Homo sapiens: one gene and its partners. The protein of the gene in region 1 purifies or fractionates together with the protein of each later gene. This does not show direct contact. Each region holds a gene or a part of one and is shown in the gene's direction. Other genes may lie near its edges.

Region 1 (3,826 bases):
TGAAAAGAAAGTGCTCTCTCAGATGGACTCTTGCATGTTAAGACTATGTCTTCACATCATGGTGCAAATCACATGTACCCAATGACTCCGGCTTTGACACAACACCTTACCATCATCATGCCATGATGGCTTCCACAAAGCATTAAACCTGGTAACCAGAGATTACTGGTGGCTCCAGCGTTGTTAGATGTTCATGAAATGTGACCACCTCTCAATCACCTTTGAGGGCTAAAGAGTAGCACATCAAAAGGACTCCAAAATCCCATACCCAACTCTTAAGAGATTTGTCCTGGTACTTCAGAAAGAATTTTCATGAGTGTTCTTAATTGGCTGGAAAAGCACCAGCTGACGTTTTGGAAGAATCTATCCATGTGTCTGCCTCCATATGCATCTGGGCATTTCATCTTCAGTCCCCTCATTAGACTGTAGCATTAGGATGTGTGGAGAGAGGAGAAATGATTTAGCACCCAGATTCACACTCCTATGCCTGGAAGGGGGACATCTTTGAAGAAGAGGAATTAGGGCTGTGGACACTGTCTTGAGGATGTGGACTTCCTTAGTGAGCTCCACATTACTTGATGGTAACCACTTCAAAAGGATCAGAATCCACGTAATGAAAAAGGTCCCTCTAGAGGATGGAGCTGATGTGAAGCTGCCAATGGATGAAAAGCCTCAGAAAGCAACTCAAAGGACTCAAAGCAACGGACAACACAAGAGTTGTCTTCAGCCCAGTGACACCTCTGATGTCCCCTGGAAGCTTTGTGCTAACCTGGGACTGCCTGACTTCCTTTAGCCTGGTCCCTTGCTACTACCTTGAACTGTTTTATCTAACCTCTCTTTTTCTGTTTAATTCTTTGCTACTGCCATTGACCCTGCTGCAGGATTTGTGTCATTTTCCTGCCTGGTTGCTGAGACTCCATTTTGCTGCCACACACAGAGATGTAAGAGGCAGGCTTTAATTGCCAAAGCACAGTTTGAGCAGTAGAAAACAACATGGTGTATATCTCAAATTGCCTGACATGAAGAGGAGTCTAACGGTGAAGTTTCACTTTTCATCAGCATCATCTTTCACATGTTCATTATCATCTGCTCTTATTCTTGCATGTTTAAACACTTAAAATTTTTAGTATAATTTTTAGTGTGTTTTGAAGTGGTGACTAGGCTTTCAAAAACTTCCATTGAATTACAAAGCACTATCCAGTTCTTATTGTTAAACTAAGTAAAAATGATAAGTAACATAGTGTAAAATATTCCTTTACTGTGAACTTCTTACAATGCTGTGAATGAGAGGCTCCTCAGAACTGGAGCATTTGTATAATAATTCATCCTGTTCATCTTCAATTTTAACATCATATATAATTTCAATTCTATCAATTGGGCCTTTAAAAATCATATAAAAGGATATAAAATTTGAAAAGAGAAACCTAATTGGCTATTTAATCCAAAACAACTTTTTTTTTCCTTCAATGGAATCAGAAAGCTTGTCAATCACTCATGTGTTTTAGAGTAATTACTTTTAAAATGGTGCATTTGTGCTTCTGAACTATTTTGAAGAGTCACTTCTGTTTACCTCAAGTATCAATTCATCCTCCATACATTTGAATTCAAGTTGTTTTTTTGTCAAATTTACAGTTGTCAATTGATCTTCAAGCTGCAGGGTGCCTAGAAATGGGCCGTTGTCTGTAGCCCTGGCATGTGCACACGGACATTTGCCACCACTGCAAGCAAAAGTCTGGAGAAGTTCACCAACGACAAGAACGATTAGGGAAAATATGCTGCTGTGGGTTAACAACTCAGAAAGTCCCTGATCCACATTTGGCTGTTTACTAAAGCTTGTGATTAACTTTTTGGCAGTGTGTACTATGCTCTATTGCTATATATGCTATCTATAAATGTAGATGTTAAGGATAAGTAATTCTAAATTTATTATTCTATAGTTTTGAAGTTTGGTTAAGTTTCCTTTCACTCAATTGATTTATTTTGTTGTTAATCAAATTTATGTTAATTGGATCCTTTAAATTTTTTTTGGCATTTTCCAACAAAAATGGCTTTATTCATAAGAAAGGAAAAAAATCAATGGAATTTGATATCTAAAGAAGTTAGAAAGGGAGCAAAATAAAAAACATAAAGGAGATAGATGAATTAGTAAGCAAATCAGTAGTCGAGTTTTTCAAACTGGCAAAATTAATTAATTGACTTTTAGCCCAAATTTACATTGTTAATTAAATCAAGAAGGAAGAAGATCTAAGAGCTCCCATTGATAGGCAAGCCTAGAGAGAACTAGCTAAATTTATCATGCTAGGATATTGAAACACAGAAAGTTTACATACATTTATGAAGGGTCAATTTAGTTTGGACAGTGAGGTATTTGTCTTAGTGGAAAAAAGGAGAATTAGTCTGATCAAATCGTGAAGTAATACAGTGAACTTGCAGGTGCACAAAATAAGAGGGCCACATCTATATGGTGCAGTCTGGAATTCTGTTTAAGTTTGTAGGTACCTCTTGGACTTCTGAATTGATCCAGTTGTCATCCACCACAGACATCTCACATCAGATACAGACAGTTCCAAGATTGACAACAGAGAACAACCTGCTGGAAAGACCTGGGCAGAAATGGAGAGCCCTGCGGGAACCATGCTACATTTTCATCTAAAGAGAGAATGCACATCTGATGAGACTGAAAGTTCTTTGTTGTTTTAGATTGTAGAATGGTATTGAATTGGTCTGTGGAAAATTGCATTGCTTTTATTTCTTTGTGTAATCAAGTTTAAGTAATAGGGGATATATAATCATAAGCATTTTAGGGTGGGAGGGACTATTAAGTAATTTTAAGTGGGTGGGGTTATTTAGAATGTTAGAATAATATTATGTATTAGATATCGCTATAAGTGGACATGCGTACTTACTTGTAACCCTTTACCCTATAATTGCTATCCTTAAAGATTTCAAATAAACTCGGAGGGAACTGCAGGGAGACCAACTTATTTAGAGCGAATTGGACATGGATAAAAACCCCAGTGGGAGAAAGTTCAAAGGTGATTAGATTAATAATTTAATAGAGGATGAGTGACCTCTGATAAATTACTGCTAGAATGAACTTGTCAATGATGGATGGTAAATTTTCATGGAAGTTATAAAAGTGATAAATAAAAACCCTTGCTTTTACCCCTGTCAGTAGCCCTCCTCCTACCACTGAACCCCATTGCCCCTACCCCTCCTTCTAACTTTATTGCTGTATTCTCTTCACTCTATATTTCTCTCTATTTGCTAATATTGCATTGCTGTTACAATAAAAATTCAATAAAGATTTAGTGGTTAAGTGCAAACTGTGTCCTGATCATTTCAGCATCTACCAGCATCAAGGGAATGGGGTGGGGTAGGGTGGGGAAGGCTGAGAGAGTAGGGAGAGTGGGAGAGGCTAGAGTAGGGTGGGGCTGTGGGGAGGGTGGGATTGTTGGAAGGGTAGGGAGGTAGGAGGGTGGGTAGGGTAGGGGTGGAATTGAGTTTGGGATAGTGGGGTGGTGGTATAAAGAACATTATTGATTACAACCTAGTATGAATTATATAGCCAGAATACTCCAGGAAATCAGTTATTCCAGCTGCAAAAGTTTAACATATAAAATAAAGATACACAATTAATAGCAACTCTGGTTGCTATTATCACAAACTTTAACATCAGTTTTACTTTAAATACTTGAGATTCATTAATATAAAATTATGAAGTATTAGGACATAGAAGAAGAGTTTCAAAGGGCTGCTAGGTTCATATGACATGACAGTCACATAAATATGACTGTTTATTGGGAAGATAGTGACTAAAAGGAAA
Region 2 (3,500 bases), on another chromosome or scaffold:
GGACATGTACCCTAGAACTTAAAGTATAATTTAAAAAAAAAAGGCAAATGTAGTTTACATTAAGTCCATAACTAAAATGTTTACAAAACTAAGGGATAAATCCTTTTTTTAAATCGTTTTTAGGTACGAATGTGAAGAATCTTTTACGACCCTAAACGTAGACATTAGAAATCACCAAAATCTTCTTGATTCTTTGGAACAGTATGTCAAAGGAGATTTACTAGAAGGTGCAAATGCATATCATTGTGAAAAATGCAATAAAAAGGTACGGGCTGTCCAGTTTTGTTTAATTTTGATTACATTTAATGGATTTAGAAGAAATTGGTTTTTTTGGTTCATCCTCACAAGTCACCCTATTTTTATTTTCTCCTACTTTGGTATAGTGGTAGCAGAGAAGTAGTCAATATGATAACTAATAGAAGGTTTGGCAAGGAAGGAAAAAAAGTAGTGCCAAAGGGGCTAGGTAAATAAGATAAAAATAGGTAAATAAGAGTGAATAATTTTAAAAGTCATAACGTGATAGCACATTCTCTTATATAAGTTACACAGACACTTTCCATCTCTACCGAGAAACAAATTGCCATTGAACCCCTCAAAGATACAGAGCTGATAGAGGAAAACATTTCTCCTGTCATGTCCAGGATTACTTGTCAAGACCAAAACATTTGCTGAAACCATTAATTACTTTATTGAACCACATAAGATTTCTTTTAGACTAGTCAAGTGGCCCATAAGATTTCTTTTATCACCTATGTTATAAAACCATTTATTTTGGAAACTTATTAGCAGTTCTTTGAGAGAGATGATTCACACGCATTATAGTAATGAATAAGGTGTATCTTTGGGAGCTCCCAAACCCTTTCACCCTCAAGTCACTTGTGTTGTTTTGGCCTTATGCACCACTTAGAGAAGTCCTGAAGTTTAAAGATTGAGATTGTGGGCTGTAAAGCCATACTGCCTGCCACCTGCAGCTCCTGAGACCTGAGGCAAGTTACTTGACCTCTCTGTGATTACTAGTTTTCATCTTTTAAGGTTCAGTAGTACACACTTGAGAAGGTTGTAAGGATTCGGTATGTTTTTACTTGTGCGGCACTTAGTATATATTACCTGGCATCTGAATTACCCAACAAATATTAGCTACTCTTATTGTTATTGTAGTTCTTTGGTTTGTGCATAGGAAACCACCTTCGTGGGAACAACAGTAAACATCAAACAGGTAATAATGGCTAGATAACAATGACAGAAACCAGTCAACAATTTACCATTTGCATATTATTAATTTCAGCATTTAAATCAGCTGATAGGATTATCTTGATTATGCTCATTGTCATGTATTTGTTTATACTTAAAAATTCAGATAAGTCTTAATATCATTTAAAAGTTTGCTTGGGGTTTTTTTTTTTTTCCTGTGGATTTTAATAGAACATCTGGTAACTTTGTCTTGTTTATTTTAGGTTGATACCGTAAAGCGCTTGCTGATTAAAAAATTACCTCCTGTTCTTGCTATACAACTAAAGCGATTTGACTATGACTGGGAAAGAGAATGTGCAATCAAGTTCAATGATTATTTTGAATTTCCTCGAGAGCTGGACATGGAACCTTACACAGTTGCAGGTGTCGCAAAGCTGGAAGGGGATAATGTAAACCCAGAGAGTCAGTTGATACAACAGAGTGAGCAGTCTGAAAGTGAGACAGCAGGAAGCACAAAATACAGACTTGTGGGTGTGCTCGTACACAGTGGTCAAGCGAGTGGGGGGCATTATTATTCTTACATCATCCAAAGGAATGGTGGAGATGGTGAGAGAAATCGCTGGTATAAATTTGATGATGGTGATGTAACAGAATGTAAAATGGATGATGACGAAGAAATGAAAAACCAGTGTTTTGGTGGAGAGTACATGGGAGAAGTGTTTGATCACATGATGAAGCGTATGTCATACAGGCGCCAGAAAAGGTGGTGGAATGCTTATATACTTTTTTATGAACGAATGGACACAATAGACCAAGATGATGAGTTGATAAGATATATATCAGAGCTTGCTATCACCACCAGACCTCATCAGATTATTATGCCATCAGCCATTGAGAGAAGTGTACGGAAACAGAACGTACAATTCATGCATAACCGAATGCAGTACAGTATGGAGTATTTTCAGTTTATGAAAAAACTGCTTACATGTAATGGCGTTTACTTAAACCCTCCTCCCGGTGAGTATCAAGAGAGTTTAGCTTCTTAGTAATAAAGAATAATTTATAGTAGGCGTCAACATGTTTAAGTTCATAAAATTAATGTTTTCACTTTAAATGAGTCTAATTTGCTGGGTGTGGTGGTTCACGCCTGTAATCCCAGCACTTTGGGAGGCCGAGGTAGGTGGATCACCTGAGGTCAAGAGTTCAATACCAGCCTGACCAACATGGTGAAACCCCATCTCTACTAAAAATATAAAAATTAGCCAGGCATGGTGGCATGCACCTGTAGTCCCAGCTACTCCCTGTAGTCCCAGCTACTCCGGAGGCTGAGGCAGGAGAATCGCTTGAACCTGGGAGGTGGAGGTTGCAGTGACCCAAATTGATGGCCACTGCACTCCAGCCTGGGTGACAGTGAGTCTCCATCTCAAAAAAATAAAATAAAAAAATAAATGGGTCTAAATTAAAGTAGCCTGAGAAGGGTTCTTAACAAATTTAGGACTTCTCAAAATTAATGGAAACACAGACTTGTTTGAAAATGGGGTTGGAAAATAAAAATGTGTTTTTATATCTGCATTTTATTTATAGGGCAAGATCACCTGTTGCCTGAAGCAGAAGAAATCACTATGATCAGTATTCAACTTGCTGCTAGGTTCCTCTTTACTACAGGATTTCACACAAAGAAAGTAGTCCGTGGCTCTGCCAGTGATTGGTACATTGCTTTGGATTTTCATTCCTATTATACTAATGTTTGGTTTGCTTCTTTAATAGATTGCTTTATGTTTTTCTAAACCAAGAGAATTTTGTTTGAAGTTTGGAATATAGAATAAAAACTCTGGGTCACAATAGAGAAATCATATTAAAATAGTTACTTAGTCTAAACATGGCCTTTTGTTATTCAGAAGCTGACTTCTGCTTCTATTACCTTGTATCATATCTTTGACATCCCTGCACCAAAGACTACAAGCTGAGACTGGGGGACAGTGACTCACACCTGTAATGCCAGCACTTTGGGAAGCCAGGGTGGGAGGATTGCTTGAGCTCGGGAGTTCAGGACCAGCCTAGGCAACATAGTGAGACCCCCATCTCTTCAAAGAAGATTTTAAAAATTACCCAAGTATGGTGGCGCACACCTGTAATCCCAGCTACTCGGAAGGCTGAGGTGGGAGGATCGCTGGAGCCTGGGAGGTTGAAGCTGCAGTGAGCCATGACTGTGCCACTGCACTCCAGCCTGGGCAGCAGAGCAAGACCCTGTCTCAAACAAAACCAAAGATTACAAGATGAGACTGAAAAGTGTAAGCTACTTATGAAAT
Region 3 (3,500 bases), on another chromosome or scaffold:
AATTGCTCTCCTCTCCCCCAGTAGTTTGTCATGAGCAGAAGTTGTTCAAGAATTGTCTTCTTTTTTTAATTGAATGAAATTATGTACAGTCCATTATCTGAAACAGGATGTCACCGAGTGCCAGAGAAAACAAAGGCGATGAAACCTTTGGGAGGGGACAGTGCCATGGTGTGCACATGCACAGCTCTAGCCTAGTGTATTCTCTTCCTGTTTCCATTTGAATCTGGAGACTCATCAGAACCCAACCCCTTGTTATATTGGAATATAGTTCTTTAGAATGGACAGCTGCTTGAGAGGCTCACCTAGGAAGCTGTTTCTAGCATGTACCTGGGTGTCAAACTTATTTTTTTTCTTTGAGATTGTGGTTATTTTCTCCAACTTGATAGTTACAGTTACATACACAGAATACAATTATGTTACCATTGTGTTGTATTCTAGAGTTAGTTTGTTTTAACTTCTAGCTTTTTAGATGGAGTACTTTTAATGTTTACTCAGGAAACAGTCTCTTAGGCTTGGGGACCTAGACTTGGCTGAGACCTAGTGCCTTAGGTTTTTGAAGCAGTGAGGGACAGAGTATTTCTCTGTATTGTAGTAAATAGGATATATTATTGACAGATGCAAGTAGAGAAAGGGACTTGGCACCTTAAACTTGCCTCATAAGATTCAAGTCTCACTGATAGGGTATATATATCCCTGTGCAAGTGAGAGCCTGTGCACTTACAGAATAGAATCTCATTTGCTGCACAATAGGGTTCTAGGGGAAAATGTCAATCTGGTCATCACAGCTCATAGTTTACTGTCATTTCAAATAGGCTTTATTGATCTCATGGCAATACTTAGTTTCAAGGTGTGGGTGGAATATCAACTCAGGGAAGTGGCTTGTGGATACAGATGTGGATGAGATAGAGAAAGCTGTAATCTCTGTTCCACATACCTACTTTAGTAATGAAACACTGTAATAGGTCTCTCAGGTGATCTTTTAATGCCTTGGCATTAGCTGAATAAATTCATCAAAATTTAATTTTTTTTAAACTGATACAGGAATTCATGAAGATTACCAACTGCCTTATTATGATCTTGTACCTTCTGACCCATCAGTTGAAGAAATGAGAAAAGTTGTTTGTGAACAGAAGTTAAGGCCAAATATCCCAAACAGATGGCAGAGCTGTGAAGTGAGTATTTCTTTTTGATATTAGGCAATTTTCTAAACTGCTTCTGCTTAGTAAGCAAAAGTTTGCTACTTTTCTTTAAGGAAAACTTTTCTTTAAGAATTTTCTTTTTCATAGCAGTCAAACCAATGTTTAAAAACAGAATAATTTGGTTTTCATATTCAATTGTAAGCACATTGAAAGGGCCATGGAACATTTGCAGTGGCCTTTAGTGTATCAGAACATAGTTTAGATCTGCCGGGCGAACTAAGGCACATATTTTTAAATGAATGCCTCCCTTCAGCCGGGGCAACCCAGAACACTAGACAGTTACCGGACATGAATGAGGAGCCCTGTATTCTAGACCAGCCTGGCTACCATTTCAAGGGTCTGACTCTGAACAAATCCCTTTAGTTCTCTGGACTTTAATATCCCTTTGCAAGGTGAGGAACTCAGATAAGGTGATTACAAAGGTGTTTCAAATGATTTTCCGTTTTATTCATCTGATTGCCCAGATAACCGTTAACCAGGAATTTAGGGAAAATGCTTTTTTCCAGCAGTATCTGAGCTGCTCAACTTCAGCTCTAACAAAAAGTTTTAGAAACGTTTTTGTAATTGTAAATTTAAAGATTCGTAAGATGAATTTTATTTAACCTCTCCTTAATTGCTAGCTGTTACTATTACAATATTGGTGAAGCAGAGCATATTCCTCCAGGTTTGAAGATTTGTAGCTTAAAAAGGCTATAAAAAGCTGTTCAGTTCAGTAGTTGATTTTACGTCTTAAACTATTGTAGGACTCAGCAGAACCTCTGATAAGCAAGAGAGCTTGCTACCTCCAACAAAATCACATCTCCAGGCCCAAATAAATAAAATGTATTTCAGCATGCTTAAGGAATTTGCATGTGACATAGTTTAATAAATGAGAGTGCTGCTAGATTTTGTCTTTTAGAAATTTGATCTACTTGGGAGGCTGAAGTGGGAGGATTGCTGGAGCCTGGGAGGTCAAGGCTGCAGTGAGCTGAGGGCATGCCATTGCATTCCACTTTGGGCGGCAGAGTGAGACCCTGTCTCAAAAAAAAAAAAAAGAAAGAAAAATTTGATGTGAATACTTCAAAGTACAAACTTAAAATTTCAGTGTGAGGTCAGATTTCTTCTTTGCTTTGCCCAGCTCTGGTTTAGGATTCGGCCTTTTCAGGTTTGCTAAATGAGTCACTCTTTGTCCACCTGCTTTCCAGCACTGGCACCAGTACCCTATTGATGGAAATTTATGTAATTTCTACTCATTTGCTATTACAAATAATGCTTAAACAATAACAAGTGTATATGTCATTTAAAAAGAAAATTTACACGTAAAAATTCTTATCCAGACCAATGGAAAATGGTGCATGCATTAATTTTTTTTTTTATATTTTCTTGTAGGCCTTGAGAGTAATGGCTAAAATTATGAGAGAATGTTGGTATGCCAATGGAGCAGCTAGGCTTACAGCATTGCGGATTAAGAAAACATTATCGCAACTCAGTCAACAGGAAGGCATCAAAATGTAATTCTACAGCTTTGCCTGAACTCTCCTTTTTTCTTCAGATCTGCTCCTGGGTTTTAATTTGGGAGGTCAATTGTTCTACCTCACTGAGAGGGAACAGAAGGATATTGCTTCCTTTTGCAGCAGTGTAATAAAGTCAATTAAAAACTTCCCAGGATTTCTTTGGACCCAGGAAACAGCCATGTGGGTCCTTTCTGTGCACTATGAACGCTTCTTTCCCAGGACAGAAAATGTGTAGTCTACCTTTATTTTTTATTAACAAAACTTGTTTTTTAAAAAGATGATTGCTGGTCTTAACTTTAGGTAACTCTGCTGTGCTGGAGATCATCTTTAAGGGCAAAGGAGTTGGATTGCTGAATTACAATGAAACATGTCTTATTACTAAAGAAAGTGATTTACTCCTGGTTAGTACATTCTCAGAGGATTCTGAACCACTAGAGTTTCCTTGATTCAGACTTTGAATGTACTGTTCTATAGTTTTTCAGGATCTTAAAACTAACACTTATAAAACTCTTATCTTGAGTCTAAAAATGACCTCATATAGTAGTGAGGAACATAATTCATGCAATTGTATTTTGTATACTATTATTGTTCTTTCACTTATTCAGAACATTACATGCCTTCAAAATGGGATTGTACTATACCAGTAAGTGCCACTTCTGTGTCTTTCTAATGGAAATGAGTAGAATTGCTGAAAGTCTCTATGTTAAAACCTATAGTGTTTGAATTCAAAAAGCTTATTTATCTGGGTAACCCAAACTTTTTCTGTTTTGTTTTTGGAAGGGTTTTTGTGGTATGTCATTTGGTATTC
Region 4 (3,500 bases), on another chromosome or scaffold:
AATGTGGTAGAGAAAGTATGGATCGATGCCACTTAAATGTTAGGAAGAAGCTCTTAGAGCATTATCTGTTTAGCTAACTGCAAAACATAGCAGACATGTGGATTTTTTAATAGTCATCAAGGATCTAACTTATAATATACACTGGTAGAATTGCTTAGGGGGATGTCTGTGGTTTTCTGGACTTTTGTTCTTCTATATAGACCTGTATCAGTTGACTTATCATTCATACCACACACCCTTAGCTAATCAGAACTACCTTGTCCATTTATATCTTAGACTATTGTCTTTTTTCATAGTCACACACAGAGAAAACTTGAATATATGGCCTGTGTTCCTTTTTGGCTGCTCAATTCCTTGAGATGAAATATGGGTATGGGTTGCTTTGGCAATTACTTCTTTGCCGTTAACCAGTCATTCAGTTTTATTGAGTCTTTACAGCATACCAGAGGCTGCTAGTTACTAGTGATATAGTGGGCAACTATGTTCTGGTTCTCAAGAATATTCATAGTCAATAATAAGCATAACATAGTGATAATATGATACTTAGGGAGATACATAAGGTCATATTCTGGCATACTCTGGAGAGAGATACCGTAATCAGCCTTGAGGTGCAGGATGTGATCTGTAAACTGAGACCTGAAGTATAGTTAGACTGGTAAGAGGAATGAGGATATATATGGTGGTTAATAAAAGAACATTCTGGGTAGAAGATATAGCATTTGCTAAGACCTAGAGGTAAGAGATGTTATGGAGTATTTAGGAAACTACAGTTATTCATTTTGACTGAAATATAAGTGAAAATAGCTTTCATAGAGTCCTTACTATGTGCCAGGCACTTCATATGCATTAATTCATTATTGCTTATTTGATACTTGTCATATGAGATAGTTGTCATTTCTGCCATGATACAGATGAAGAAATGGAGACACAGAAAGAGTAATTGCCCATGGTTGCACAGCTTATAAATGGTAAAGGTAGGATTTGAAAACAGTCTTACTCAAGAGTCTGTGCTATCTTGCCTTCCCAGTTTTATTTTTTATGATCCTCTGGAGAGATAAGCAAGGGCCAGTTCCTAATGAATTTGGTTCTTTTCCTGAAAGGAGCCAGTGAAGAGTTTTGAGCACAGGATATCATGATCAGATCTATACTTTAAAAGTTTACTGTACTTTGTAGAGAGTGGATTGAAAAGGGCCAAGACTAGTAAGGAAACATTTGTGTTAATTCAGGGAAGTGCTAATGATGGCATTTGCCTGAGAAAGACAAGTGTGAGAGAAGTAGATGTAATTGGATGTGGTGAATGTAATTGGTTGTTGGAGGAGAGGGAGGATGGAGAGTCTGCCTAATTTTGTGGGTTGGGCCACTAAATAGGTAGATAGTGCCATTCATTAAGGAGGAACACAAGAGGAATTTGGAAAGCTTGAGATTATTTCAGTTTTGTAGATGTTGAGTTTGAGGTTCTTCTGGGCATATTCAAAAAGGGTATCTGTGGATATGGAATTCACAAGAGACCCTGTACAGATGATGAGGATTTATGAATCATCAATGTAGACATTATTGAAGCCAGAGAAGTGATTGTAAGGCACGTCTCTGAGAAATGTCTAATAAAGCAATGAAATAGGAAGAGTGCTTCAAGGAAAAGCTCAAGAAAGGAGAAACAGAGTGTGATGTTTGAGAAGACAAGGGAAAAAAACATTAATAGCATTAAATGCTTTAGCATTAAGTTCTTGGCTTCTCTTCTTGTAAAAATTTCCCAATTCAGAACACAGTGGGATTATTAACTTTCAATTGATAATAATAATGATAGGCAAACTTCTAAAATTTGTATTGTAGTTTGCATTTTATTATAAACTTTCTTTAAATTTTTATTTTGAAAAATGTCATATCTTCATAAAGATTGTAAGAAACACACTGTTGGTGTTAATGTAAATTAGTTCAACCATTGTGGGAGACAGTGTGGCAATTCCTCGAAGATCTAGAAGCAGAAATACCACTTGACCCAGCAATCCCATTACTGGGTATATACCCAAAAGAATATAAATCATTTTCTTATAAAGATACTTGCACACATATGTTCATTGCAGCACTATTCACAATAGCAAAGACATGGAATCAACCCAAATGCTCATCAATGATAGACTGGATAATGAAAATGTGGAACATATACATCATAGAATACTATGCAGCCATCAAAAGAGAATGAGAGGTCAAGCGTGGTGACTCATGCCTACAGTCCCAGCACTTTGGGAGGCCGAGGCAGGCAGATCACTTGAGGTCAGGAGTTCAAGACCAGCCTGGCCAGTATGGTGAAACCCCATCTCTACAAAAACAAAACAAAACAAACAAAAATTAACTGGTCATGGTACTGTATGCCTGCAGTCCCAGCTACTTGGGAGGCTGAGGCAGGAGAATGACTTGAACCCAGAAGGCAGAGGTTGCAGTGAGCTGAGATCGCACCACTGGACTCTAGCCTTAGCAACAAAACTAGAGTTTGTCTCAAAAAAAAAAAAAAAAAAAAACCGGAACAAGATCATGTCCTTTGCAGGGACATGGGATGGAGGTGGAAGCCATTATCCTCAGCAAACTCACACAGGAACAGAAAACCAAACACTGCATGTTCTCACTTATAAGTGGGAGCTGAACAATGAGAACACATGGACACATGGTGGGGAACAACACACACTGGGACCCGTCAAGGGGTCGGGGTGGGAGAACATCAGGAAGAATAGCTAATGGATGCTGGGCTTAATATCTAGGTTATGGGTTGATCTGTGCAGCAAGCCACCATTGTACACATTTACCTAAGTAACAAACCTGCACATCTTACACATGTACCCCAGAACTTAAAAGTTGATGGGAAAAAGAAAAACAATAACCACCCACATACCCTTCATATAGATTCACCAGTTCTTAATGTTGTGCCAACTTTGCTTTATCTTTTTGTCAGTATTTTTACACACACATGTATTTCTCTGTCTCTTGTTTGTTCAATCACATTTTTTGCTGAGTCATTTAAGAGCTAATTGCAGATATGATACTTTGCACTTAAATATTTCAGCTTGTCTGTTTGAAAAAGAAAGATGTTCTCCTACAATGAACACAATATAATTGTCATGCTCAGGAATTTTAATATTGATTCAACACCATTATCTAGTCCATAATGAGATTTCTTCTAATGGCCCAATAATATCCTTCAGTCTCCCCACCTCCAATATCCAAAGTTCTGTCAAGGATCACATACTACATTTGGTTCTTTATTATAGACTTTTTAAATATCGTTGTATACCATTGTGATTCTATCGTCTCCTTTAATAAAGAGGAGAACCAGAAAAATGAAAGGTCATAAGAGGAATGAGGTTTGGAGAATAGGTGAAAAAAGGCATCATAATGTTTATAATAATGTTTGCCTGTTCAGAGAAACAAGAATCACAGATAAAGTCACTTATATGTAGATAAGAGAATGCTGTATTACTTTTTGCTATTCTATTCACTGATCATTTTTC

The links.
Region 2: the proteins of PEG10 (region 1) and USP9X purify together in Homo sapiens (affinity purification with mass spectrometry; 3 studies listed by BioGRID and IntAct, with this or other methods). This does not show direct contact.
Region 3: the proteins of PEG10 (region 1) and TGFBR1 purify together in Homo sapiens (affinity purification with western blotting; one study listed by BioGRID). This does not show direct contact.
Region 4: the proteins of PEG10 (region 1) and CEP290 purify together in Homo sapiens (affinity purification with mass spectrometry; 3 studies listed by BioGRID and IntAct, with this or other methods). This does not show direct contact.

Annotation. Positions count from the first base shown.
Region 1 is NC_000007.14:94,666,370-94,670,195, forward strand, and holds the end of PEG10 (retrotransposon-derived protein PEG10), read left to right. Parts: 3' UTR 1-3,326; downstream 3,327-3,826.
Region 2 is NC_000023.11:41,214,445-41,217,944, forward strand, and holds part of USP9X (ubiquitin carboxyl-terminal hydrolase 9X), read left to right. Parts: intron 1-123; coding exon 124-265; intron 266-1,454; coding exon 1,455-2,208; intron 2,209-2,775; coding exon 2,776-2,899; intron 2,900-3,500.
Region 3 is NC_000009.12:99,146,613-99,150,112, forward strand, and holds part of TGFBR1 (TGF-beta receptor type-1 isoform 1 precursor), read left to right. Parts: intron 1-1,041; coding exon 1,042-1,172; intron 1,173-2,567; coding exon 2,568-2,693; 3' UTR 2,694-3,500. UniProt on the Homo sapiens protein: Transmembrane serine/threonine kinase forming with the TGF-beta type II serine/threonine kinase receptor, TGFBR2, the non-promiscuous receptor for the TGF-beta cytokines TGFB1, TGFB2 and TGFB3.
Region 4 is NC_000012.12:88,132,089-88,135,588, reverse strand, and holds part of CEP290 (centrosomal protein of 290 kDa), read left to right. Parts: intron 1-3,500. UniProt on the Homo sapiens protein: Involved in early and late steps in cilia formation. Its association with CCP110 is required for inhibition of primary cilia formation by CCP110.